4 linked regions of the Homo sapiens genome follow. The protein of the gene in region 3 interacts with the protein of the main gene of each other region in a pairwise test. Each region holds a gene or a part of one and is shown on either strand. Other genes may lie near its edges. The genes, in order: NAF1, CAMK2B, RBFOX2 and MAPK1IP1L.

Region 1 (7,025 bases), on a different chromosome or scaffold from region 3:
TACATTATCTGCCATTAGAAATAACTATTTTATCATACAAATGAAATTTTTGTAAATGTTTACTAACAAAAAATCAAAGAACAGCAAAAAGTTTTTCTGGACTCATTTATTCAATACTTCTACACATAACAAAGAGTAGGAAAGGAAAGGAAGAAAACTATTTCATTCACATCATTAGCAAATGAAAAGCTTGCATGGAAATAAACATCCCCAAACACCACAGCATTTCGCAAATGAACTACTAAAATTCAACATACTAAAGAAGCTCCACCATTTATTTCCCACACACTACACAGTTCCAAGTCAAAAGCTTTATTGAGAGGCAATATAATCCAAGCAAATACAATTTTAAAAAGCTTACATTAGATGATACATTCATCCTTCACTTTGAGAAAATATGCTACATGATTATTCAGAAACCAAATAATGAGAAAGTCCAAACGACCAGATTCCAACGTTGCTATGCAGGTCTCCACAAATACTAAAAACACAGCAGTTTGGAATGTATCTATTACCAGTTCAGATCTGCTCCTCCCCACTAATATGACTTCAGACAAGTCTCTTTCTTTCTGGTTTCATTTTTCTTACCTACGAATAGTAAGGAAACTGAGCACAAGTTCTAAACAGTTACACAAATGGCTAACGACAATTTAAATGTCCAACTGCATGTAATCAAAAAGACAACACATTAATACAGAAATTATATACTAGATCCCAATAAAAAAATTACTGTGCTTCTGTGATAACAGATACTCGTAACGATGGCATTAAAGAAATGCAAGATCCTAACCACACTTCTGGAATATCCATGAAAGAGCAATTATTGTCTGTTTTGTAAGATTATTATATTTTAATTTTCTAACATCTGTATGGTCTACAAGGTTATTCAGTTAAGCAAAATATTCAAAAGAGTACCACATAACATTAAAAATCCATCCTATTAAAAATGAGGTTATAGACATACCAGTCAAAAAATGGGTGCCTAAAACTTTCAATGCAAAAATGGAAGAAGCTAATATGTCAAAAGTGGCCCTCTGAAAAGGTAACATTTATAATTTACAACACTGTTGACTTTTCAAGCATTTGTGAAGGCTTATTGAGCAAAAAAGAGTATCAGTAAATTGATGACTTTCTAAAGTAAAATTATATAAAGAACTTTCAGTAGGATTTTCACTCACAAATATGGAAAAAGGACAACAGAGGTTGGTGGGAGAAGGAATCAAACATTCCAAATGAAAACTAAACCTTTTTGGTGTCAGTTTGGGGAGAATTGAGAAAAGTGAGGAAGGTGGGATGAAATTATCTAACCACTTTTCTCATATTACCCAACACAGGACATGCACGTGGCAGCCAATTACCTGATGCTATTAGGTGAGCCTTCACTTTTCAGATATGGTTGGAAAGTAGGATCCAATCCCTGGAGTACTGAGAGCCATGACTGAATTTTTTTTTTCTCTATAGCTGGTAAAACATATTGGAAAAAGAATGGATTAGGTCTGTACACTTTGTGTCAACTATGACCATACTTAACATGTATTCTAATTCATTAACTTCTTCAGGGGAAGTAATTTTACAAGTTTCCATGAAACTCAGCTATTTATCACCAGTAAGCATTAGTCCCCTCATTAATTACCCTATTGTGTATGACACTAAACTTAAGACTCAGACAAGTCAATTAAAAAATGAGGGTCAACATTTCTTTGAAGTGTCTTGATATTTTTCTTTTTTAAATGAATACATTATTATCCTGTTTTTCTCTAAAATTACTGTTAAGAGAAACAAAGTTCATAATACTTTCAAAATTTAATTTGCTTAAATATAAAACTATAGTCCATCTCAATAAGAAACCTCCAACAATGAATATAACTTTAAGCCTATCTTTCATGTTAATTGAGTGCATATTTCATCAACTTTAAGACACTGATTTTATATCACTAAGATAAAAAGACTGCCAAATAATTGTAAAATGCCACAGAGTATTAGCCTAAATTTTTCAGAAATCCTTATTACCTCCCCTTCCACTCAATCCTATCACTTCTTATGTGCAGTACACCATTCATCTGACATTCAACCATTAACTCTCTGGTGCTACTTTGCTTTCAGCTAAAGTGTATATGCTCATTCTCTAGTTCCATTGCTCTTTAACAGATATTTGTCTTTATCTTCTAAAGCAATCAGCAGAATTCACTTATTAGAAACTACTGAGGAATGGGGGAATCTAAACAATTGAATGTTTCTGTGTAATAATAATTATATATGTATATACACAGGACATAAATGGATACTCTACTGAATAAAACAGTATTTATTTCATGTTTATGAAATCATTCATGCCTCATGTAAGCTTTATTGAAATATTCTGTAAGATATAAAACTTTAATTTAAAAAACCCTGAGTATTAATTATTTTTGAAGAACACTAGTGAATATTAATGAAAAATGATCTTAAGTATACAAACCATTGCTTAAATAACAAGCACTTTGGGAAGAATGTTAATAAGTGCTATCAAAGTGTATTCTAAAATAGAATTTAATAGTTCCAAATATACATATAGTAATAAAAACCTAAGTTAAAAGAGGCCTGCATTCAGGACAAAATTTATAAACCAACTTATGCCTAGAAAACAATATATTCAATTGATAATTACTAAGTGTAGACCAAGATGCAATACAATTTCATATATGATGGGAGATCAAACAGGCATGAAATATTCTACTGCAACTTCCAACCACTTGAGTGGTCCAGATATTTCCATACATTCACGTTAGGACATTTTAGAATGTGTCCACACTGCCACAATCAGGAGAATAGAGTGTACTCAACCTAACTACCAAACGTACTTATTTTATAAAATAAGCAGTCACCAAAGTATGACAGCTAAATTTCCCCCAAAATTGCCAATAAGCATTAATTTTTTTCTTGGTCATGCTACATTATATGCCTAAAGACACATTATTATCCCTACTGAAGTATTATCCATTTCTTATCTCCATAAACATTGTGCTAATAATTTTTAAATGTTATGTGAAGCCTTTCAGGTTTTCAGAAAACAATGGGCACTAATTTATAAAACTCATTTCTGATTAAGACTTTAAAAATTATAATCCCAAATATTTTTATGACCCTACATTTTTAATTACACTTGATACATTTGAATGAAGAGTTCAGAGCATCAACTGCTGATAAAATTGTTTAAAAAGAATCTCAATTTTCCAATTCATCAAAACACTAAATACATCCTATGTGGCTCAACGTAGTTCCAAAGCTGTAATATGTATGCTGCTTACAGTGACTGTGTAGGTTATATATAAACCTTCTGAGCATTAAAAAAGAATTTATGTTTAAAAGAATAATTTTATCTAGTTAAACTTATTAATTGTGACATTATGAAGAGAGCCACTTAAGACTCTCCTTTTTCATTGCCACTATAGCTCGCTAATTCCTCTTTTATTCTCTTCCCCCTTAACGTACCCTCACATTAAAAAACAAAAACAAAAACAAAAACAAAAAACTGGGTTATAACCACATCTTGGGATGGCAAGATTTGGTTATAACCTAATTTTAAAAATTATATCTTTCTAAGGTTTAAGAACAATCATAAAGTTATTTCACTGTAGTTCTCATCTACCTAAAGATCTGCATTGTACATAGTTAGATCGCAGAGATCGAACAACCCACAATGGAAAGATTTAAAGGGATAGATCCAGAGAGGCGACATTCCTGCTTGAAGCACAGACTAAATGGAGGTAAAAATTAAGCTAAGCATGCCTGAGTGACAATAGGAAACTGCTAGAAAACTCTTTAGAAAGTGGTTGGACATAAAATTGGGTTAAACTGGGCTAAATTGGGCATGTCTATGTCCAGATCCCTGAAGGTCCAGCACAAATTCTAAAATTGGTTTTAACTGTTTGGCACACTTTAATTTGTGTATATCTTTTGGCAGAAAAGTTCATTAATTTTCTTCAGAATTTCATTAGATAGTTAATAGACCACATAGAGCTTGAAGCTCCATCTAGCTAAGATACACAACCTCTGCTGCCTAAAAGTCTAAGTGACATATCAAGAGGCCTGAACAAAATGGCACATACCACACAAGCTAGGAATAGTTGTGGAGAGGAGATGCTTCCCAGAAAGAATGGACTGTCATTTTCCAAAAAAAAAAAAAAAAAAAAAATCTAAGCTAAATAACAGAATTGTCCCAAAAGCAAGCAAGGAAATACAACACTAATTAGCCAGTTCATGGGACACTGAAAGCAAAAGATGCCATTTTTAGAGCCAGAGATACTGAAATCCATGTATAAGCTAGAATTAAAAAGATCAATCTGTCCAGGCACGGTGGCTCACGCCTGTAATCCCAGCACTTTGGGAGGCCGAGGCAGGTGGATCACCTGAGGTAAGAAGTTTGAGACAAGCCTGGCCAACATGGCAAAACCCTGTCTCTACTAAAAATAAAAAAATTAGCAAGGCGTGGTGGTGGGCGCTTGTAATTCCAGTTACTTGGGAGGCTGAGGCAGAAGAATAGCTTGAGCCCAGGAGGTGGAGGTTACAGTGAGTCGAGATCGGCCACTGGGCTCCGGCCTGGGCGACAAGAGCGAAACTCTGTCCCCCCTCACCAAAAAAAAAAACCAAAAAACAAATCTATAGATAAACAGAGGAAGCCAACCAATAATGAAAGAATAAAATGCCAGAGAACTGTGAGACTATCCAGAGGCATGTAAAAGAAACAGTGTGACTAGCCTTCACAGCTGCCTTAGTTCCCAGCTGCTTTCGAATAAACTTCCATTTCTCCTGAGGTAATATGAGTCTCTGCTCCTCCTAACAATGAGTCCAACATAAGTCGTACATGATATCACTTCCAAGTATTTCCCTTTCCCTCTAGTGAGTATAATCCGTTGTTACTGTCTGCCCAGCATCCCCTTTTGGAATGGATATAAGCTCCCTTTCCTGTGAAAGATAAACCATTCCATGTGGTTTATATAGGGCTGATATTACACCCAACATCCCACCCTCCTCACAATACATACACATTCACACTCCCTTTCTGTCAACTGGCTGTTACGCACTCCCACCCTCTCGCACTAGCCCATGTGCTCTTTCAAGTGTTCATTTTCCTACACATGCTCTCCTCACTCTCTCCTACACACTCGCCTACACAAACAGGAGTGACTATGTGACTCACAGCCAAGCAATCTGAATACCCATTCCACTAGCCTCAATGATCTGTTCAAGGCTGTGTTAACAGACCATAAGCCAGCAAAAGTCAACTCCAAGACTTTCATGCAAGAGTCTATCAGTGGTAAAACTGCCAGCCCTGAGAAACGGACAAAGAGGCAGACTCCTAAACACACTACATACCTGTAACTATACACTATCCTTAGTACTCAGGACAAAGTCATTCTTTTCCCCCAAACTTAAGATTTGAAACCCCGAAGAAGTCCTTATATCTTCTTTCAGACCTGTAAGCCAGAGATTTAGGGCAGACTGGGAAACTCATCAATTCCTCTACCTATCTCTAGCAGCACAGTGGTCTGAAGGACTTCTAATAAGTTTCCCAAATAAAGACTATAATTGCCTCTTCCATCATTCCCAAAGATCCATTGAAATGGTCACAGAGAGGAACAGACCAACCCATCATTCCAAGTTTGAAAATCTAATAACATTCAAATGGAATTTTGTCTTTCGAGGCAAACATACACTTACACAATTCAATAGCATTTTTAGCAATTAAATTTATTTGTCTCCACTTTATTTACTGTCTGTGTCTCTCCATTAGACACTATGAGAGCAGAAACTGGACTGGTCTTGTTTACAGCACCTGGCAAATGGCAGGTGTGCTATAATAATTTCTTAAAGAATTAATAAATATAAAATGCCTATTCACACACTCATTCTATAATCATGTATTACTTTGGCCTGAGAACCCATTATCTATAAAGCACTCCACTGGGGACTATGGGAATTACAAGGATCACATATGAACTCAGTCCTCAAAGAACTTGTTCTTGGACTCCTTGTGGCCACAAATCCTTTTTGATCTTCTGATGAAAACAGGGACATTCTGTTCAGAAAAATACCTAAACAAATATGCTAAGACTTTGCATTAAATTGGAAGAAATTCCCAAGGTAAGAATTGCAAATCTAGTAAGACAATGATATGTATGCATTTACAGAAGTACTGTGGTCTTTTCTTTGTTCGTTATTATATTCTAATAAGGAAATTATGTAGAAAAATGATCAAGAGACAAGCAAGAAAGACCAAACAAGTCTCCTACTTTCAGAAAATAGTTATGCTGGGAGCCTTTGTGTACAAAGACCACTAAGAAATATTAACATATCTGTAGCATGAAAATATGAGCCACTGATGAAGCTGCATACAAATCCAAAGGTCTTCAAGTTATAAAGCATAAGCGAGACGAGAATTTCTTGTTATGAGTAGAGAAAAAGAGAAATAATTCAGACTGGCAGAATCCATTCATGAAAAAGGCTCCTGAGTGCCTGTAGGCTTTAATTTATTTTTTCAAATCTTGCATTAAACTATCTCATCAATTTAAGTGTTATATAAGAATTATGATTAGTGACCATTAAATATTTTTAAAGCATTAATAATTAAAACTACATGCAGGGGTAGAAAAAAAACAATGTGATAATATGGCCTACATTCTGAAATTCTGAGAAGGCTTTCCTCTTGGGTCATAGGTTTCAATCAGACTAACATCATCCTCCTAAGGATGTTTACAGCATAAGAGGAAATAACCTTGCAAGAGTTAACTTTGCAAACCAAACCTATCGAGTGCCAATAAATACCATTCTACAATTAACAAGTTTTCTCCAACTGTAATAATAAAAACACTCCAAAAACTTCAATAGGAATCCTAACAAGTTCAACCCTCTGAATTTCATCTTCTACTTCTCTAAATGCAGTCAATTAAAAAGTCAATTGCTATTGAGCAAAATTTTCTGACGTGCAGACCAAAAAAATTGATTTCAATTGCTATTGAAATTTCAATTGCTATTGAGCAAAATTT
Region 2 (7,025 bases), on a different chromosome or scaffold from region 3:
TTTACCCTGTGTTCATGGATGGGGACAGCTGTCCTGGGCACAGCGTGGACGGAAGATGGTGTCCACTCTGAGTGTTCATCGGTGGACAGTCCCCTTGGAGTTTAGGATCCTGTGTCCTGTTCCCCATTCTGTGCCCCTCCCTTGGCTTGATTTGTAGGGGAAGATAAAGAAAATCCTTGTTGAAAACAATGTGAATTGAAAGTGGGCAGGCACTGGGGCAGGAGCCCCTGACCCTCTGCAGTCAGGGCTTGTGACCACCCCCACCCAACCTGGCTTCAGACCCACCCTGCAGCCCCACCATGCTCGGGCTTGCCCTGTCCCCGAGCTCCCCCATGGTACACACCATCACAAGGGGCCGGGGACCCACCGCCTCGAACCCAGGCAGCCGACGCTCAGGAGCACAGGGCTAGACCCTGCCCTCCATCCGCTGGTGTCCTGGGCCCTGTGCCCACCTGTTTCTGTCCCCAGCCCGCCTTATCTCCATAGCTGCATCCCTGGCCCACCTAGAAGGTGCCCTCACACGCACTGCAGCCCGCCAAGGCACTGGCACACCTGACACTGCACGGGCAGCACTGCCCTCACGCCTCCCATGTGCCCTAGGCTGGCTCCCACTGTAGCTTTTGCTCCCTTCTGCTCCCGGCCCAGATTCCAAAGGCACTCCCACTTCAGTAAACCCCTGCACAGACCCTTGTCTCAGCCCAGAAGCTGGGCAGCCACCACCTCTGATCCCGCTCTGCCACTAGCTGCACCACCCGACCAAACCCCAAGCCCCAGGCTTCCCCAAACCCCATCAGCAGACGAATATGCCCAGACACAAAGCCTGGCCTCCCCTCCCAGCTTCAGCTGGGGGCTCAGGGACTTGAGCGAGGCCCGCAGTCCTTTGTCAAAAGTCTGCTCCCCCTTGCGGGCTGCAGAGAAGCCGAACAGGCTGGGGGAGGGCCGAGGGGCGGAAACAGGGTTGGGAGCTGCCAGTGCATCTGCTGCTGGCCAGCAGAGAAGGGACAGACACCTCACACAGGAGGGGGGCCAGCCCAGGCAGAGTCCTCTTGCCACAGCTGGCTGTGTTGGAGCTGTAGCCAGCAGTGCTGTCTCTTGCTCGGCGAGAGGCCCAAAACTAAGCTGTGCCCCTCTTTGCACTTTACTCCCCCAGAAGGACCAGAGCTGGAGCCCTGGGTGTGTAGGGGCATCTCTGAAGGCCTTGGGGACGGGACTCCAGTTTCAATACTCCAGGGGGTGAGGGGCCGGCCTGGGCTCTGCCGAAGGGTTGTCCGTGCTGGGTGTGTGGGGATACCGGGCACGGAAAACCCACACCTAGCCCTTCAGGGGATGAAAGGAAGGGAAGGGAAAGCAGGAACAACAGCAACTCTCAGGCACAACTAGCGGGAAAGGAGGCAGCCCAGCGGGCCCCCACAGCCCCTCCCAAGAGACAGCTGACAGTCACGACAGCCAGCGAGCACACCACGTGGAGCCCATGCGTTGGCAGGAGGATGCAGACACCTTAGGTGTGGGGTGTGTGCGTTACCTACAAACTAACACCGTTCAGCACGCGACGGGGGCCTGGCAGACAAGTTCATGTCCCAGCTGGTCCCCCAGAGGCCAGGAGCACAGACGGACACACGTGGAGCTTGGGTGGGGAGTGGCCCCACGAATGCCAGTGATTTTTACAGCTTTTTCCTTCCTTTAGTTTTTTTTGTTTTTTTTTTTTTTCATTTCATCTGATGTCAATTTTTTTTGTGGTTGTCGTCGTCATCTTGTTTTTTTTTTTTTTTTTTTTGTTTTTTTTTAACAAATCACATCTGGTCTTGTTTTTCTGCAGACACAGGCACCAGGGGAGGGAACGAGGCAGACACAAACATGCGACAGGCAGGCCGTGTGCCCGAGGGCAGTCGGGCTCCAAACACCAACTCTGTCCGGCGAAACCAGGGCGCAGCTCTGAAATGGGGCGGGTGGGTCAGCTCCTCAGCAGCCCCCTCTCCCATCCACCCCCAGGCTCTGCTGTCTGCCATGCGGCACTGCAGAGAGGGTTAAAGTCCAGAAAAGGGCCCACTCGGGAGAGAGGTTCAAGGTGCCCAACCCAATTACTACTATCCCTGTAAAACTGGGCTCTGGGCCCGCTGCACCCACCACCTGGGGAACGCCCATCTGGGGCTCTAACAGTCCTCACAAACAGGGCATGGTGCCCAGGACTGTGCTGCCCGGGGCCCATCCACCTGCAACCCACCCAGCTCTGGCCAGTGTGGACTGCTCAGGCCCTCACCAGCTCCCCAGTCCTCTGGGGAGGCCTGCCACACCCAGCCTGCCGTGGTCCCTAATTTGACATCATTCCTGTGGCCTCACCAGGAAAGCTCAGGGACTTCCCAGGCATGGCTCTGCACAGGCCCCACCGCTCCCCATCGCCTCCCCAGGCTGCAGCCACTCACACCACCGCCACCCCTCTGCCCCAGCTGTCACTTAGCACAGAACACTCACCTTCACTGCAGCGGGGCCACAGGCGCGCCCGAGCAGTGGAAGTGCACGTTCTGCCACTTGCCGTCGCGGCGGTGCCACACGCGGGTCTCCTCAGACTGGCTGGTGCGGGGCCGGCCCTGCCCGTCAATGTACTGCGTGAGCCGGATGTAAGCGATGCAGGCGGCATCCTCTCCAATGACGTGCACGTGTGGGTTCAGGATGGTCGTGTGGATCGGCTTGCTGTTCTTGGCCAGCACTGTGGACAGCAGGCGGGGCGGGGGTCTCGGGTTACCATGACTGCCCTGGTGCCCGTCTTCCACCCCACCAGCCTAATCCTTTCCCTCTCTCAACTCCCCTTATTGGGGAGGCTCGGCTCTCCTGGGAGCAGCATGGGCCCCTCCAAGAGTGGGATTCTGGGGGCTGGGTATGGCCTCTGGCGGGGGAGAGGTGGCTGGCCAACCCTGGGCACAGAGGGGACAGGGCTTCCATAGGCAGCCACCATGCTGTCCCTGGGAGGGGCCGAGAGGCTCTCCTGGGGGCACCGCCCCCTCATGCCCACCCGGGCTTCCTCACTCACGGTTCTCGAAGTAGAATCTGTGGAAGTCCATCCCTTCAACCAGGTTGCCCAGTGCTTCAGGCTCAAACGAGGTCAGCCCTGGGTCACAGATTTTCCTGGGGGCCAAATCCAAGTGAGGAGGGGCCCCGTGGACCCCTGACTCTGAGCAGGCCCCCCCAAGGGTCCCACATCCTTGTCCTGCACAGCCCCCCCCCAGCCCCAGGGACTCACGCGTAGGCCTCAAAGTCACCGTTGTTGACGGCCTCGATGAGCTGCTCCGTGGTCTTAATGATCTCCTGCTTCCGGGCTGTGGGGAGACATGGCCAGGTGACCACTGGGCGCTGGCCCATTCCCCCCGGACCCCTCCACACAGCCCAGGGGAGGGCCTGGGGGAGCGCGAGCTGCATCCATGCCGTGTTCCTGCCGCTATTTGCAGAAGAGGTCCTCTCCGCCGCCCCCCCTGCATCACCAGTGGCTTCCTCATTTTCAAGTGCAACAGCTTCCATCTTATTTTTCTTAACTAAAGTATTTTTGAAGAACAGAAATATTCTATCCACATTACAAAATGCCTGGAAAATGCAGAAAGAGGACAAAAAACCCACCCACAATCCACTTGGAGGTCACCTCCTGGCCCCACGTGCTGTCCGCCACAGTCTCCCTCCTGCCCTCCCGTGAGCCAGCCCCTGGGCCCACCAGGCCTGGCCCTGCGCTTCCCTGCAGCTTCCCGGCCCCACTCTCCTCCCGAGCCTTGGGTTCTTAGTGCTTCCTTCACCCAGCAGCTCTGGTGAGGGGGCTACTGAGTGCAGGCACCAGGCGAGAAGGCAGAGACCTGCCTCAGAGAAGGAGCCGTCAGCAAGGCCACCCGGAGGCCGGGGAGGAGGAAGCAGCAGGGGGCGGCCACGTGCGGCGCAGGCTGCAGGGTTCCCCGGAGCGATGACCAGGGCTGTCCCCGCAGCAGGAAGAACGAGCGTGGTCTCTTGTTCCCCGCTTTTCTCATAGGAGCCGCATCCGGCTGGCTCCACCTGCTTGCAGTCCGGGGCCCACATGCTACCCCTGCAGACATCCCTGTTGCCCCGCACCCCCATGCCCGGGCTACTCCCGGGCGCCTGCCTGCAGCTCCTGCCCGCCCCCCTTGGATTCCAACAGGCCACCCAGCCATGCTGGTCCTCACTGGCCTCCGGGGCGCTCACTGGCAGCCTGCATTGCTGCTTTAACTACAGCTTATTTTCATTGCAAAAGATTTTAAACGTATGGAAGATGTGGAGAGAATAATAGAACCCACACTCTACGGATTCAAATCTTAACATTTTCCTATTTGCTTTAGACGCATTTTTAAAGAAATAAAGCACCGCACATGTAGTTTGAAGATGCCTGTGTTCTCCTCAATCTTGCCGCATTCACTCTCCTCAGGCAGAACTACTGTCCTGAGTGAGGTCCCTAGCCGTATCTGCGAGGATATATACGCAGGCACGCACATACATGCACACTCACACACAGAACACACATGCACACGCACGCTCACCTATACACACGAGTAACAGTGGTTTCTCAAAGTAATTCGTCCGTGGAAAAAACTCAAACCCCCAGAAGTGCACCGGAAGCAGGTTCCTGGGAACTCTCCCTGTGGGGGAAGTCTCTGCACTCCCAGCACTGCGCTCTGTGACCCTCAGGCTGCTGCAGGCCGCACCTGGGACACCTGCCCTCAAACAGCTGCCCGCCCTGCAGGACACCATTTTCACCAGAAGGCAGGCCCTGTGGTGACGTTTCCACTCTTTGCTGTGAGTGCTGCCTCCAACGGCCACATACATGCAACCTGTCTGTGGTCTAAATTCCCAGAGGAGGGAATTCTTTTTTTTTTTTAGATGGAGTCTCACTCTGTCACCCGGGCTGGAGTGCAGTGACATGATCTCGGCTCACTGCAGTCTCTGACTCCCAGGTTCAAGCGATTCTCCTGCCTCAGCCTCCCGAGTAGCTGGAACTACAGGTGCACACCACCACACCCAGCTAATTTTTGTGTGTGTATATTTTTAGTGGAGATGAGGTTTCACCATATTGGCCAGGCTGGTCTCAAACTCCTAACCTCAAGTGATCTGCCCACCTCGGCCTCCCAAAGTGCTGGGATTACAGGTATGAGCCACTGTGCCCAGCCAGAAGAGGGAATTCTCAGCACGCCTGGTGGTGGGGTTGCCTTTATCTCTCTCGCCAGACCTCTGGGAGCTCACACCACCAGGGAGCCCACCTGGCAGGTGACTGAGTCCACAAAGGAGGCGCCACATGCCCGGGTGTGCTCATGCATGTGTGTGGGGCACTGCCTGGGAACGCCTGTGCTGCACCTGTCTGCTCTGGGGCCTCATGTCCCCTGCTGCACAGTGACAGCAGGAGGAGCCCGATGGCACCTGAGGAGTGGGGTGCACACATGTTCATGTATGTGATCACATGCATGTGTGTACACGTGATTGTGCATTCATGTGCATGTATGGAAACATGCACATAAGCAGGACGGCATGTGAATGTGTGTAGATGAAGCTCATACATATGCATGAGCACCTGTGCATGTGTGTGTGCAGTGCCTATGAGCGTGCACGTGTCGTGTGTGCCTGTGTTGTGTGGCGTGGGCACATGTGCACTCTTGGGTTGTCCCTATCTGGAAAGGCCCTTGCTCCTGACCCAGCTGTACTTCTGCTGCCAGCTTGTCTCCCTTTCTTTCCTAACTTTCATCTAGACCATGTCATGGATGGTCCTCAGGGCAGTCTTGCTACACAAGCCCAGTTCCCACCCACCTGGTGGACCCCGGAAAGCTGGCCTCTAGGAAGGTAGGCTGCAGGATCCAGAAGCCCCTTCCCCTCCAGTTCCTGCTGCAGCCACCACGAGTCCCATTCCTGCCCCATTCCACCTGCCCAGCTCTAGGAAGGCACAGGGCTCTGTCCCAACACATGCTGTGGCTGTTCCTGTCCTTGCCCCTGGGCCCCAGGAAAGTAGCATATGACACTTGAGGCCCGCCCCCGCCCCAGCTGCTATGTTCCTGCCTCCTCTCCACCCTCTGCCTGGCACCTGCCTCTCCCCTGCCTCATGCCTCCACTTTCACCTGTCCTTTCCTGGAGGTGGCCCCAAGCTTCAGGTCTGACCTCTCTTCCACCTGTAGCCAGTCCTTCCAGCAGCCCCCAAGCCAGCCCCCACTAGGCTGCCTGGCTCTGCCCTCCTTGCATCAAGAGAGAAGTCTGGTGTCCACATGTCCCAAACACCTCCTGTCACTTAGTTAACCTCCCTTTCTAATGTACAGAGACAGCTGCCCCTCCCACTCCACAGGGGTTCTCAGGCGCACAGCAGCAGGCAGCTGGAATGGAGAAGAGAATGACATTATGTCATTTGGTTTCCAGTCTGCTTTGGTTCTATAGTCACCTTACACTAATGGTAAGTGAAACTAATCTTCTGTTTAATGAAGTAATATGCAGTGCTTTTAAACAAATTGTAATTAAAATGGGAGTTGATGGGAAGAGAAAGCGTGAAGTAAACAGAAGAGGAGATGCATGGTCAGAGTTCCAATCAAGAGTGGTAACCGTGCTGAAGTACGGGAAGCAGGTCCGTTGTGAGACCCACCCACCCATTCCACAGATGGGAAGCCTAGGCTGCCCCTGCCCTGCGGAATGGCGCTGCCCAGACCCCAGCTCAACCCAGCCCCCACTCTGCCTCCCCACATAGCACATGGGAGCTTTTGTGTCCTTGATATCCAGGCCCCTGAAGAAGGGCATGATCCCTGATGGAGGGAAAGGAGGGGGGCCCAACATGAAGAGGTGCCCGGGTCGGGAAACCTGCTGGCTGAGGACAAGCTGTCCTGGCAGTTCCAGAGACAAAGGGGAGGTGGTGGGCAGGGCCTGGGCTTGGAGGGGTCTGCACGAGCCAAGAGCCTCTGCAAGTCAGGCCTTCCAGGTGCCCTGACATGAACAGGAGCCTTTGCATTGCCTGTGGCTCTCTTGGGGTGAGGCAACAGGTCCAGGCAGGCCTAATGCGTCCAGGTGGGGTC
Region 3 (7,025 bases):
CCAGCCTGGACAACAAAGCAAGAGACAATACAATTTCCCATATGTTGGTATGTATGAGATATATACCTATTATTAATTTATGACATTTCCTTTACTTTAGCAAGTTAGTAGTAAGAGGTGAAGTCAAAGAGGTAAGCTGGGGCTAGAGACTAGTAAACCAAGTACGGAGTTCAGATTATATTCTAATTGCATTAGGGAACTATTAAGAGTTAAGTAGGAAATCGGCATTTGCATTAAAAAAAAAAAAAAACCACCTTAGTCCTATGTGGAGGATAGATAAGTTAGGCAACAGTAATACCGGAAATAAGTGATGAGGTTTGGACTAGAGCAGTGATGATGATAAATTCTTTTAAATTTCCTAACAGCCTCTTCAGGTAGGTACTATTATCTTCATTTTAGAGTGAGCCAAGGGCAGAGAGATTAAATAACTGGTCCAAGGTCACACAGTTTAGTAGGGGCCATATTGAGATTCAAACACAAGCAATTTGGTGGAAGAGTAATAAGATGTAGAGAAGAAGACGAAGTAGTTTTAGAGTTATGGTTGTCAAGACTTGCTAATCAATTAGATGTACAGATGAAAGAAAGAAAGAAAGAATATTCCTAGGTTTTGCTTGAGTTTGGTAGTATAATTATGCAGAGAAAGGATATAAAATAAAAAGAAAAGGGGTTCCAGGACCTACATATGGAGTACTGCACCATTTAAAAGTTGAACAGAGAAGGAGGCAGGAGCAGAACACCCAGTGCTTGGCAGGAAAATTGGGAGAGCTCGAAAAGCCAAGAGACTAAGTATTTCTAGGAGGAGGGAGGACAATGTATACAATGCTGTTGAGAGAAGGTGTAAATGAGAACAGGTGTAAATGCTAAATTAATTCCGAGAGTCTTCTAATTGTATAATTAAGGCGACAATTTCTATATGATTGCCATGCATCCTTCCATTTTTCACCTCATGGTCCACGTACCGTAAGAGATCCATTTTGTGTGCTGGGTGAGTTGCTGCTCTGCTCCCCGTGGGCTTGCGTACTTCCGTAGAGTGTCAGGTTATGCTCACCGGTCTGGCCGGCATAGTCTTGAGTGTGTGGCACCCCATACTCTGTGGGAATTCCATTCTGCGGAGGTGGTGGAAATGGGATGGTAGTAAAAGGCTGAACCATTGCGTCAGGAGTTGTTGTCGGCTCCTGGTTACCCTAAAACAAACAACAAGAGAAAGAAAAAGTGACTTTGAATCCTTGTTACGTAACTATTTTTAAAGTGAGTATATGGAATTCTCTGAATATTCTCTCACTGCATAGGTAAAATGGAATGCTTATTGCTCCAGGATTGGAGAAAATATTATTACACATACACACATAGATATATGTATGTGGACAGACACACACACACACACACACACACACACACACACACTCACTTTTGTTAATGTGTAGTTACTAGACAGGCCCACAACCATATTTAAGTGGACTAGATGCCAAAGGGGCAAAAATCTTTCCTTTAAATTAAAAGTAGGTGGAGAGCCCACTTTGGACCACAAGCCACTACAGCCTATACCACAGAGAGAGACTCTGTCCCTAAAAAATACGAAAAACAAAAAAGAAAAATCAACTAGGAGAAAATATTAGCAAAAGGTAAGAGAGATGCTGGGTTATTATCACTAGTCCCAGAGTGGGTTAACCAAGTTGACAAGACAGACACACATGTACACACAAACACACACACATCCCAAGAGAAAAACAGGCAAACTGTGTATCTGAACAATTCATTGAAAATGAAATACAAACAACTAATAAAAATGCTCAACCTCACTAACTGTCACGAAAATTCACATTAACATCAAAGTAAGTCCAAGTCTTTAGTCATCAAATCAGCAAAAAAATTAAGCAGTTTTATTATGATATAACTGTCATATGATAAACAGCACTTATTTATTTACAGTATACAATTTGGTAAGTTTTGATATATGCACTTATATTCTCATGAAATCATCACCACAATCAAGATAGTCAACACATATATCCAAAACCCCCAAAAGTTTCCTTGTGCCCCAATAATAAACATATATTACTTTTGTAATAAAACCTATACAAATATATTGTTTTTAATACTAAAGAGAATGACAAAAAATATATCATCAATAAGGGGAAGCCAATATTCTGAAACACTGAATTACTGTGTTACTCTTAAGAGAATGGTAGTGACCTACCTTGAAACAAAAATTCATAACTCTCTTCCATTTAAAAGTTAAACAACTTCAAAATTCAGCTGTCTCCAATGTCCAAGAATCATTTCTACTTGGTAATAAAAACTGCTTTACACAATAGTGGTGAAAGAAAAAAGGCAGAGAATTGGGGGTGGGGGGCTGCCACAGTCTAGATAAAAAGTGATGAACTGATTACAGTTATCAGTGGGAAGGGGCAGAGTCATAGACTGAGTTGTGCTCAGTCTCCAACCCGTATGTTGAAGTTCTAACCCTCAGTACCTCAAAATGTCACTGTTTTTAAAGATAAGGTCTTTAAAAAGGTAATTAAAGTGATGTCATGAGGGTGGGCCTTAATCCAATTGGAGTGGTGTCCTTATAAGAAAAGGGAATGTGGATACAGACACATACAGAGGGAGGCCCATGTGAAGACACAGAGCATGACCATCTACAAGCCAACAAAAAAGACATCAGAAGAAACCAACCCTGCTGACACCCTGATCTTGCACTTCTAGCCTCCAGAATGGTAAGAAAATACATTGCTATATTGTTATGTAATACTTTCTTATGGCAGCCCTTGCAAACTGGTAAAGGCAGGAATGAAGATTCTGTAACAGAAATTAATAATAAAAATAAAAATAAATTGCTTTACATAAAAATTTTCCTGCTATTGGACATAATGGTTCATGCCCTTGTAATCCCAGCACTTTGGGAGGCTGAGATGGGAGGACTGCCTGCGGCTAGGAGTTCAAGATCAGCCTGGCCAACACAAAGAGACCCTGTCTCTAGAAAAACTTTAAAAAATTAGCTGGGCATGGTGGTATGTGTAGTCCCAGCTACTTGTGAGGCTGAGAAAGGAGGACTGCTTGAGCCCAGGAGCTGGAGGCTGCAGTGAGCCATGATTGCATCACCCTAGCCTGGGCAACAGAAAGACCACGTCTCTTAAGGGAAAAAAAAAAAAAAAAAAGGCTGGGTGTGGTGGCTCACTTCTGTAATCCCAGCACCTTGTGAGGCTGAGGCGGGCAGATCACTTGAGGTCAGGAGTTCAATACCAGCCTGGCCAACATGGTGAAACTCCATCCCTATTAAAAATACAAAAATTAGCCAAGCATGGTGCCAAATGCCTTTAATCTCAGATATCTTGGAAGCTGAGGCAGGAGAATCGCTTGAACTCAGGAGGAGGACATTGCAGTGAACTGACATCGCTGCCATTAAACTCTAGCCCGGGCAACAGAGTGAGTGAGACTCCATCTCAAAAGATAGAAAAAAAAAAAAACCCCTCTCTTTAGTTCTTAGAAAATATGTTATGAAAACTTTAAATTTTTTTGGAAAAAGTCTATCTTCGTCACCCATCACCATATAACTTCTTTACGTTATTTCTAGGTTAGGATAGTTTTTATGATGTCTTTATAGCTATTCTGGGCATCTGACGAGAGATATAAAATAGTTATCTCCCTTCCCCTTCAAATTATTCAATGCTCTATCTCTCTGTCTCTCTCTAGCCATATGAAACATACTGCTTCAGAAGCCCTCGCTGAATCTACTGGCCTGAAGACAGACATGAAAAAGAATTGAATTGGAATTCAGGTGGACTGGTGAATGAAACACAATAAGAGCACCAAAGGTCTTATGCCCACATCAGGCATAAATATAATCTCACAGGAATCCATAAGAAAGTTCTACTAAATAATTGGTAAAAGCTAAAAGATAGAGTTTTCAAGTTAGGATTAACAAGGCCAAGGCGACTTTCTCCTGCTCTGACACTGCTCCTTTCAGCCTCCTCGTTTTACTCCAGCCTCCATTCTCCACCCCAGCCTGCTGGGAATGAGACTCTGGCACACAAGTACACAGTATGAATTCTCTCACAGCGTTATTCTCAACAGGGCTGACTCAGATAACTGAATAAACACATCAATTAGCAGTGGGAGATGGGGAGAAAGGTAAAAACATTTCCTGCAATCCACTTGTAGCCTAGGCACTAGGCGTTTTACAGAAATGCAAGCCAGGCAGAGGCTCTGTTTTCCTAGAGGGGTTATGTACCTCCCTTAAGAGGTCAAGAAGAAATTCTTAGTGGATTATTTTGTTACTTACAGAAATTTCTTTTAAAATTTTTGTTAAAAATGTAACAACAATTGTTTATATATTAAGGGAATGAAATTGGGATAGGAGTGATTTAACATTTTCTCTCATATAGCATGCAATGTCTGAATATTTCCCCAAGTATACATTATTAAAAATGTCAAATGGTTTCAGATTTGTATTAAATTTCCAGGCCATATTCCAAAGTTCTATGCTCAGAAGAGAAGTACAACAGCCTTCAGCAAACTATGAGATAACAGTTCACATGAGTATTTCTAGGTATGAATTTACCTCTATACTTATATAAAAATGTTTTGTTTCTATTACCAGAGGCTAAGCTGCTTAAGTATATCTCATCTGAGAAAAGAAATTACTAGCTTTCTCTTTAGTCCACAAGGCTAGACAGAATAGCTCTTTTCCCTAACCTAGCAATTTATAAACTTTCTTCTGTTTCCAGTTAAAAGTAATTCCTTCCTTTCCTATATTCTTATAACATTTAGCTTGCATCCCCTATAAGACATTGAAATCTAAAGCCTCATACTTAGCAAACGTAAATATGTATTTTAACTCCCCTATTAGATTAAAAGGCTCATTATGATGGGTGGAGACAGTCCTGTACAATGTAGAATCCCACATCGTACATAATAAATATGAAGTGTTAAACATTTATGAAATAGAGGAAGACTGAGATAGAAAGTCAGGTGTGTGCACATTACAGCAAACTGCTTTGTTGGGCTAGAGAGCATAACAAGGGATAACACAGAGTGAAACAAGTGTTGGTATCTTGGGTTGATATCAAACTGGAGTGCAGGGATGGGAAAGTAGAAGTGGGGAAGCATTAGGAAAGCAAAGAATCAACATTTACATGCTTGTGCTTTATGCACTTAATTTCCTTCTGTCTTACAAACACAGGCTTTAAGAGTTGTTGACCAGCTGTGAGTGAAAATCAAATGTAACTATTAATTTCTGAGTTGAGAATGATGTCTTTCTCTTTTAAACCACAGATAGTAACAGAGGCGATACATATTATATACAGCCTTTTGGTGTACAATGTGAAATATGCTAAATGTTTTCATTCTGAATTCAAACATACAGTTGTCCCTTCATATCTGCAGGTAATTGGTTCCAGGAACCTCCCAGCCCCCGCCCACCACAGATGCCAAAATCCTTGGATACTCAAGCCCTTTATATAAAATGGCATAGTATTTGCATATAACCTACTTACACACATCCTCTTGTGTACTTTAAATCATCTCTATATTACTTATAATACCTAGTACAATGTAAATGTTATGTAAATAGTTGTTATGCTGTAGTGTTTAGAAAATAATGACAAGGCCCTGCATGGTGGCTCATGCCTGTAATTCCAGATCTTTGGGAGGCTGAGGAGGGAGGATCACTTGAGCCCAGGAGTTTGAGACCAACCTAGGCAACATAGTGGGATCCTGTCTCCACAAAAAATTTTTAAAAATTAGCTGGGCATGGTAGCATGTGCCTGTAGTCCCAGTTGCTCAGGAGGCTGAGACAAGAGGATCACTTGAGCTTGGGAGATAGAGGCTGTGGCGAGCTATGATTATGGCACTGCATTCCAGCCTGGGCGACAGAGTGGAACCCTGTCTCAAAAAAAAAAAAAAAAAAAAAAAAAAGAAAAGAAAAGAAAAAAGTGTCAAGAAAAAAGAGTCTGGTCAGGCCAGTGGCTCACAGCTGTAATCCTAATGCTTTGGGAGGCCAAGGAGGGAGGATCTCTTGAGCTCAGGAGTTTGAGACCAACCTGGGCAATGGGAGACCCTGTCTCCTAAAAAGAAACAATGTCTGTACATGTTTAGTACAGACACAGTCATCCAATTTCCCACCCTAATTTTTCAATCCGCAGCTACTTGAATCCACAGATGCAGAACCCGTGGCTATGGACAGACAACTATAGTATTACAGTCGTCAAACAGGAACCCATTCAACAGTCTATTGCCTTACCCACAGCAATCTCAGAGGTTCAATCATCACCTACCGACAGGTGACTTTCAGTGTTTTTTCTAGGTCCAACCATGTGCCTTCTCCCCAGTTTACATGGAATGTAGTAAAACAGAAGAAAGCATGAACCTAAAAGTCAGACTTGAGTTTAAATTCCAATTATACCACTTACCAGATGGGTTGTTTACTTCAGAGGTGGGTGTGAAAATTAATTGAGAGAGCAGGTGAAACTGTTTTGTTACTGATTCTTTAGCATATTTTCTGTTCCTACTGAATTATTCTGAATATTATTTAAAACCTATGCACAGTACTGTAAGAGAACACAGAAATGACCCAAAATATAATTGTCTTCATATTTCTAGGATAACTAAAGTCTATGTAATCTTTGAGAGAGAAGGGTGTATTTTTGTTTATATCTTCTCATTTATTCCTCAACTTCATTCTAATTTTCTCAGTTTGGTCACCTTGAGTCCCACTTATATACATAAACTGCTATTGTATTGCTTCTAATCAACAGGCTGCAAATCCTAAAAGCTTCTCAATTCCCATACCACATATATGGTCAGAATGGATCATGCACACAAACAGATCAATATTAATTTTATTCACACCATCATAAAAGAATCACTTCATTATTTTGGTAGAGCATATTCTCACCAGTTTATTACCACTGACAATGTCACTAATAGTTTTTCTAGTGCTATTTATAAATGGAAATTAATTTTCTAGGATTATAATACAAATAAAATGTTTTTACTTTTAAGTATTTTTACAAATTATATCATTT
Region 4 (7,684 bases), on a different chromosome or scaffold from region 3:
TTTTGACGGTTATCTTTTGACAAAAAACTTCTCAATAAGAGACCATTTTCCATCTGTAGAAGTTATAATTCCTGCCCACTGCACAGAAAATAGTAACACACTTAATCTATAAAGTGCTATATACATGTTAGATATTTGTTAGGCGAAATTAAGCGAAATCAAAATTTTTGGGTTGATTTGTTTAGTATGGGGGGATGATATGTATCGTACTGAAAATATAAATTAATGGCCGGGTGCGGCGGCTCAAGCCTGTAATCGCAGCACTTTGGGAGGCCGAGGTGGGTGGATTACTTGAGGCCAGGAATTCAAGACCAGCCTGGCCAATGGTAAAACCCTATCTCAACTAAAAATACAGAAAATTAGCTGGGCGTGGTGGAAGGCACCTGTAATCCCAGCTACTTCGCTTCGATAGGCTGAGGCAGGAGAATCGCTGGAACCTGGGAGGCGGAGCTTACAGTAAGCGACTCCGTCTCCAAAAAAAAAAAAAAAAAAGAAAATATAAATTATAAATTAGAATACATGCTAGTTTTTAGTATTGGCTCATTTATCTGCTTATGTTCCATTTTTTACATTTGGGCAACTCAAAAACGGGGGTTTTGAAATGCTCAAAAATCTGAATCTTTTTGAGTGCCACCATGCCGCTCAAAGGAAATGCTCATTAGAGCATTCTGGATTTTGGATGCTCAACTGGTGTAATGTAAAAAAAATCCAAAATCTGAAACACTTCTGGTCCCAAGCATTTGGGATAAAGGATATGCAACCTGCAATATTTCTTGGCATTTAGTTATATACTTATTGGAACATATATGCCAAACAATGTGTTGGCCTTTAGAGAAATTATAGTATTACATGGAGATTCCTGAGATGTGCTGTCTTTTGCAGTCCATAAGGACCATAAGGAAAGAGCCGGGAGTAGAGGGCGGTGAAATGGGCCCTAGGGAAAGAAGAGCAGTTAGTGTAAAAACTGGGAGAATCTCTGGGGAGGTATAAGCAGTTCAGATGGGTTAGAATATAGCGAGAAAGGGAAGGGTTGTATTAAAGTCTTAGCAGAGTGACCTTAGACGAGGGTTTGAATTATTTCACTAAAAGTCGGCTCATCTGAATGAACCCGAACTATAAAGAACAGGCCATACTATTTGTAAAAAGCACGCAGTTTAAAAAACAAAACAAATAAAAACCAGGCCAGTAATGTTGCGAGGAACTAAATGGGACTCTGTCCAATCAAGTGCCTAAAAAAATAGTGCTTGGGTGGAAAACAAATACCAAATTCTCTTTTCTTTGTATGTGGACATCTAGCTTATAGGTAAAAAAGTAAACGTTAAAGTATGATTATCTAGCTATAACTGCAGCTCTTCACTGGTTGGTTCGGCCAGAGTTGACAAGTCCAACTCTCCAAACTTGAGGCAAAGGAAGATCGGAATCGTACCCACATCATAGATTTGCTGTAAAACTTTTAATAAACAAATCTCTTAGTCGCTGCCTGGAATATAGCAAAACCTCAACAAATATTAGCTTTTATGATGCCTACTTTTAGGTCCATAAATCTTTATCTGCCCTAGTTTGGCACAAAACTTACATGGTGGCAAAATGTGACCTGAAGCTATTTATAGTTTCTATTCGCCCCCACTTAGAATGAATGTTCACATCTATTGCTGCAAATATTAATGTTGGATTATGGGGTGCCCCACTCTGCTGGGGGTGTTATCTCTCGTCTAACATGACTTTCTAAAAAGATGAAGATAAAATCCAAGTATTTTTGAATTCAAAACACACTAGCTTCAAAAGTTTCAGTTAAGAGACTGGGGATGGATTTTACCCATTCCGCCTGGAGTGAGGAAAAGAACATTCCAATATTTGCAATTCACTCCAAGTTTCTGAAGCAAACTCGCTTTGCATTGTGGGCTCAGAGATGCCAGCATGAAAAATTTCTATTCTTCCCCCAAAGAACACCAGTGAACAAAGAACTTATGAAATGTTTCTGAAGGCTACCTTTGCCTGTAATGAGGGTTCCTTTTCGAAACAGACCTTTACAACCCCCAGGTGTGTATTTCTCTAGTAGTAAAACTAAAAAAAATTCTTGCGGTCGAGTGAGCCTGGCTTCATGCTTTAACACTGGAATCTTTACCTATTAAAAGCTGTACTCTTGCTTTTCAAGGTAAAGAGGAAAACGGTCCAGCTATGCATACGCTATCGCAGGTATGTGCTCCTCAGTCCTAAAAAAGGAGATCACTGAATTCTGCCCTTCTCGTGGTTTGCCCTGGGTATTCATCTAATGTATCCGTGAGCAATTCCTCTAGTAAGTCATAACCAGAACGTTGTCACACTGCGGATTAACAAGCGCCCGAGACTCTTGTAAGAATCTTTTCAGGCCTTTCCCTTTTTATTAAAAATTAATGAATGAGTGTAATAGGGTGGGGGTAGAGGGGAAATCGGGGCCAAGGGGCGCGAGGCCGGCAGCCGTTTAGGGACGCACGAACAAAGGGAGTCCGGGATCAACCGGAGCGAACCGGCCTCCTAGCGGGTCGCGCCCGCCGGGAAGGGGTGGGGGAGGGGCCGGCCCGCGCCCGCCCCGCCCCGCAGCCAGACCTGACGTCAGGCGCCCAGAAACCCGTCGGGCGCGACGTCAGCGGCCTCCGACACCTTCTCCCTGGGGGGCGATCCCCAGGCAGCCCGCAGCGTGGAGGAAGGCGACCGATAGAAACGCTTAGTCCTGGTGCCAGGCAGGCGACCACGGCCCGAGCACTGGACGTGACTCGATGCACCTCGGTCACCGCGCCCGCTTCCCGCTTGGCCGCGCCCGCGGGCTCCGCAACCCCAGCTCCCCGATTCCCCTTCACGACTCCCACTAGTACCGAAGCAGCCTCACCCGGCAATATCCGAGACCGCAGTAGGGTCTAGAAGCGGCGATGGGTCCGAGGGACTGGGCCCTGAAGACGCGGGCGCAGCCTGACTGACGGCAGCTAGAGCAGCGGCGGCAACAGCACCAGCAGCGCGCGGCTCCTCCTGGCGCCGGAACAGGAAGCGCCGAGCGCACCGCCTCCGCCCGTTCTCCCCCTCCCCTCAGGCCGCGCCGCGTGCGCCTCCCGCAGGCCCCTGGCGGTACTGCGGCCCGCCAGGCCTAGGGGGATGGGCTCCACCTGGCGCCGGCTCCGGGCCGCTTTCCCCTGGTGGGCGGGCTAAAAGCTCCCAGAGTTTCCGGAGTTCCGAGGACTCGGAGGAAACGCCAGTGGCTGCCGATGTTCACGGCTTCCCGGCGGAAATTGCTAACTTGTCTTGAGTTGCTTGAGGGCTGATTCTGGATTCCTTTTGCTCAGCGGTTTTTACAGCTAGGCCTCGAAGGAGGCTGGGTATGGACGCGGTCTGATTTCGGCCTGACCCGAGGACTCAGATCCTCGGGCCAAAAGTGGGGAGAGGGAAAATATTAATACAGGAAAGGGAAGACGTTTGCAAATAGCTTGACAAATTGATATTTGCTTTCTTTGTAGATTTTTCCTCATCAATGCCTCTTCTCCCATGTTCTTTTTTGTTGTTTTTGAGACAGGGCCTCTGTCACACACGCTGGAGTGCAGTGGCGCGATCTCGGCTCACTGCAACCTCTGCCTGCTGGTCTCAAGCAATCCTCCCATCTTAGCCTCCGAGTAGCTGAGACTGCAGGCATGTGCCACCACATCCGGCTTATTTTTGTGTTTTTGATAGAGATGGGGTCTCACCCTGCTAGCCTCAAGCGATCTGCCCGCTTCGGCCTCCCAAAGAGCTGGTATTACAGGTGTGAGCCACCGTGCCCAGCCGCCATCTTCATTTCTGAATAAACATTACCTCCTGTGTCAGGCACAGATGACATGACCCCAGTCAAGGAACCTACTAACTAGCAATAAAGATGTCGTGATAATTATATGGTGTGCAAAATATATACATATATGCAATATACTTTTTTTTTTTTTTTGAGACGGAGTCTTGCTCTGTCGCCAGGCTGGAGTGCAGTGGCGCGGTGCGATCTCGGCTCACTGCAACCTCCGCCTCCCGGGTTCAAGCGATTCTCCTGCCTCAGCCTCCCAAGTAGCCGGAACTACAGGCGCGCGCTACCTTGCCCAGCTAATTTTTGTATTTAGAGACGAGGTTTCACCACGTTGGCCAGGATGGTCTCGATCTCTTGATCTTGTGATCCGCCCTCCTCGGCAAAGTGCTGGGATTACAGGCGTGAGCCACTGTGCCCGGCCAATATACATTTTTTAAGATATAAAAATATCCTAAAAGTATGTGGTACACTTGCATCTTGCTTTGTGTAAGGCATTAGTGAGTGAGTGGGTGGCCATTTAACCATGAACTTGTTTAAAGGAAGACATCCCTGGATGTTTTCCACAGCACACACAATTCTCACACTGAAAAAGGGGCAACAGAGGAACTTCAAATACCTAAGCCGAGAGTCTTATTTTTGGGTAAGGGCACACAGGCCTATGGAAAATTACACGACTGGTGTGGACCTAGCCTGTTCTCACTGGTGACAGTGAATCAGCAGTGCCTTGAGCCATGCTGAAACCTGAAGCAACAAGAAATCAGTAATCTGGTCAGGTTTGATTTGAAATTTGGTATCTTGCTCATCATAGGCTTTTTTGCATCAATTCAGATATTACAATATTGTACCAAAACATTGTCTTCCTTAGTCGTATAGTCAAATATTTGTCCCTAAGTGCCTCACCATACCCTAGTCCTGGCGCTGTGTACCAGTAATGGATAGCCTCCAACTTTTCCTTGCCTGCAATCAGCCAGTAGCTGAGCACGTTGGAGGGGTCTAGATCTAGGCCATTCCTGTCCCTGTGGGCTTCTCTACAGGCAACCTTTGCTTGGGAACCAAGTCCTCATCTAGCAGTCTCAAGATGCACTGAAGTCCGAAGCTCCCCTACCCAATCCTTCCTTCTAGGTGTCAGACTTTCTGTGTGGTATGAAGAATTCCCCACCTTCTGCTCCCTTCTCTATCTTTCTAGGTGTTTCACTCCAAATAAATCTCTTGCACCTCTAATCACATTTTGGCACCTGCTTCTGGAAGTCCCAAACACAAAAAAACTAAAAGGAGTGTATTATAAATTAGAAAATATGTAAGAATATGGGTTTCTCTATCTTTTTCAGATTCTAAGTTGAATGTGTGAAGTAAAGACTATGTTTTTAAAATAAAACACAAAGCCTTTGGATTTTACATAGGAAGTTTTAATTAAGTAGAAATGAAAATTTATCCAGATCAATTTATTTGAACTTACATCCAAGAAGAAACATTCAACTTAAGGATTAGAAATAAAAGTGGCAATTGTCTACTTCTTTTGTGGTAAGGAATAGATCATACAAGCCTGACTGATGAGAGTAATAGCTTTGTGAAAACTGTATATTCGAGTACATGTGAACTCATACTTGGCTTATACAGAATTTATCCAATTCTAGCAAAGTCAGCATAATTTAAATAAACCTCCTTGAGTTTTACACCATGGCTCTCAAGTCTGAAAGCTTAGATTTGATTATAACCATGGCAAAAGTGATTATCTTTATTTTCTGAAAACGTAATCAACTTTTAAAATAAGTTAAGCAAACATCAGTTTTACACAGACCATATGAAGGGTAGGAGGAAACTGCAATTGTTCCTCTAATTGCAGAGCCTAAACCATAAATTCAAATTGTACTGCTATCTCTACTGTTAAAACAAGTCAAGAAAGTCTTTTACAGTCTAAGAGAAGTGAATGTAATTATGCAGCATCCACTACAAAGATATTTTGAAAACCTATCATCATGTTAGTACTCAATGGCTGTACAGCAATTATTTTAAAGTACGCTCCCAGGGTCACCTCTTGCTGAAGAATTAACTCCAGGAAGTCGAGTTACAAGTATCACCTACATTTTATAGGAAATAAAGGCAAAGATTTAGGACTGAGTCATCTGTTCAAAATTAGAAAGTAAATAAAAAAATAGACTTTGGTTTTATTTGAAAATCCCTTTCTATTGGGTTATATCCATTAATCTACATTTCAACTTCCAAGCCAATCTATTTTAAAAAGTTACCTCCATTTTGTGTCCAATATCTTACTGTATTAGAATAGTACAGGTAGACTCTTGCACTGCTCATTTCTAGTAGGCCATTAATAAAGAAAAGAAAAACCTTTGTGCTTTCTGTTCTTTCCTTAAATTACAAATGTAAAACTGACTTTTTTCCCCCAAAGTAGAAACAGTAGTTTGCTTGACGAAAAATCTTTTATTCACTTGGGCATTACATTACCTAACATTACACAGGCTATTTTGCTTTTAAACATTGTTTTCCTTGTGTTGTCTCCAGGAATCTCTTATAATTTTGTCTATTTTCCTGTGAAATTTGCTTTACCAAAATGAATGCGTAAGCTGTTTATTGGATTCTGACAATAGCTAAAAGCGACAAGAAATATTTTAATGAAAAGTAAGCGTGAGTTAGATCTTGGCCGGGCACAGTGGCTCATGCCTGTAATCCCAGCACTTTGGGAGGCTGAGGCGGGTGGTCACCTGAGGTCAGGAGTTCGAGACCAGCCTGGCCAATGTAGTGAAACACCATCGCTACTAAAAATACAAAAATTAGCTGGGCGTGGTGGCACACGCCTGTCATCTCAGCTACTTGGGAGCTGAGGTAGGAGAATTGCTGGAACCTGGAAGGCAGAGGTTGCAGTGAACCGAGATTGCGCCATTGCACTCCAGCCTGGGCTGACAACAGCGAGACTCTGTCTCAAAAAAAAAGAGATCTCAAGGTTTTTGTTTCATAGGAAGGAAGCTCTCTATTGCGTGGATCTATAAAATGATCCAAACTTCAGAGACAGGAAGCTGATAACTGGATTTATCTTCTTAATGGCTTTGGCTCATGAATAAATGATAATGGTTTATGTGTTTTTCTTATAAAAAGAAATGGAATTTGTATACCGATAGGAGTCCTACTTGCCACATTTGTTCTACTTATTAAGGGATTTCTAATTACTGAGACATTCTTTATATTATTTATAATAAGAAGTCAAAACTTTAACTGAAAGCCATTCTTTGACCACAGTTGGCCATTAGCTGAAATTCAGGAAATAGCACAGGTTTGATCACCAAATCAATAAATCTAGCCACAGGCTGACTAAAAGCTTCCTTTAATCTTCTTCCTATTAGGTCTTCCTTTAAATTAAACCATTCCCTTCATGAATTATTTAAGTGAATGGCATGGTTATAGAAAGATCACATATAACTCTATACAAAAATGCTAAAGGAACCTTAAAAAGTCCATTCAGCATACTTCAGGAATTATACTATGAATCAAGATGCTGTAGGCTTAGAAAAAAATGGGAGTGGGAGTATGTCCTGTAAAGCTTCAGAGAAAAATAGAAAAGTCAAGTTTATTTCCTGATTAGCCCAGGATGATTCCCAAAGCGCAGTTAAGTGTCTGGTCCAGACTAGCTATTAGCGATTAAGTAGTTTCTTTTCACTGTCAAGGCTTTTCCCTGAGGTAATGCCTAAATTCCTAATTTTAATATTTGATCTTATTTCTCTTAGCTCCATCCTCTCTCACCAATAAGCTCTCCACATTTCCACCATGCTAAATGCTTTCTCAACTCTGGAATTTACACTGTTCAAATCTTCCCTTTGTTCAACAGTTATAAAATTTTAGACAAATTTATACATTCCCACATTGTTCCTCTCAAAATTT

The links.
Region 1: the proteins of RBFOX2 (region 3) and NAF1 interact in binary tests that used the Homo sapiens proteins (3 or more experiments, as listed by UniProt).
Region 2: the proteins of RBFOX2 (region 3) and CAMK2B interact in binary tests that used the Homo sapiens proteins (3 or more experiments, as listed by UniProt).
Region 4: the proteins of RBFOX2 (region 3) and MAPK1IP1L interact in binary tests that used the Homo sapiens proteins (3 or more experiments, as listed by UniProt).

Annotation. Positions count from the first base shown.
Region 1 is NC_000004.12:163,156,867-163,163,891, forward strand, and holds part of NAF1 (H/ACA ribonucleoprotein complex non-core subunit NAF1), read right to left. Parts: intron 1,462-7,025; exon of another isoform or gene 1,359-1,461; intron 1-1,358. UniProt on the Homo sapiens protein: RNA-binding protein required for the maturation of box H/ACA snoRNPs complex and ribosome biogenesis.
Region 2 is NC_000007.14:44,217,591-44,224,615, forward strand, and holds part of CAMK2B (calcium/calmodulin-dependent protein kinase type II subunit beta), read right to left. Parts: intron 3,312-7,025; coding exon 3,236-3,311; coding exon of another isoform or gene 3,232-3,235; intron 3,121-3,231; coding exon 3,026-3,120; intron 2,705-3,025; coding exon 2,472-2,704; 3' UTR 2,470-2,471; intron 1,933-2,469; 3' UTR 1-1,932. UniProt on the Homo sapiens protein: Calcium/calmodulin-dependent protein kinase that functions autonomously after Ca(2+)/calmodulin-binding and autophosphorylation, and is involved in dendritic spine and synapse formation, neuronal plasticity and regulation of sarcoplasmic reticulum Ca(2+) transport in skeletal muscle.
Region 3 is NC_000022.11:35,808,821-35,815,845, forward strand, and holds part of RBFOX2 (RNA binding protein fox-1 homolog 2), read right to left. Parts: intron 1,185-7,025; coding exon 960-1,184; intron 1-959. UniProt on the Homo sapiens protein: RNA-binding protein that regulates alternative splicing events by binding to 5'-UGCAUGU-3' elements. Prevents binding of U2AF2 to the 3'-splice site.
Region 4 is NC_000014.9:55,046,986-55,054,669, reverse strand, and holds the start of MAPK1IP1L (MAPK-interacting and spindle-stabilizing protein-like), read right to left. Parts: upstream 3,024-7,684; 5' UTR 2,867-3,023; intron 1-2,866.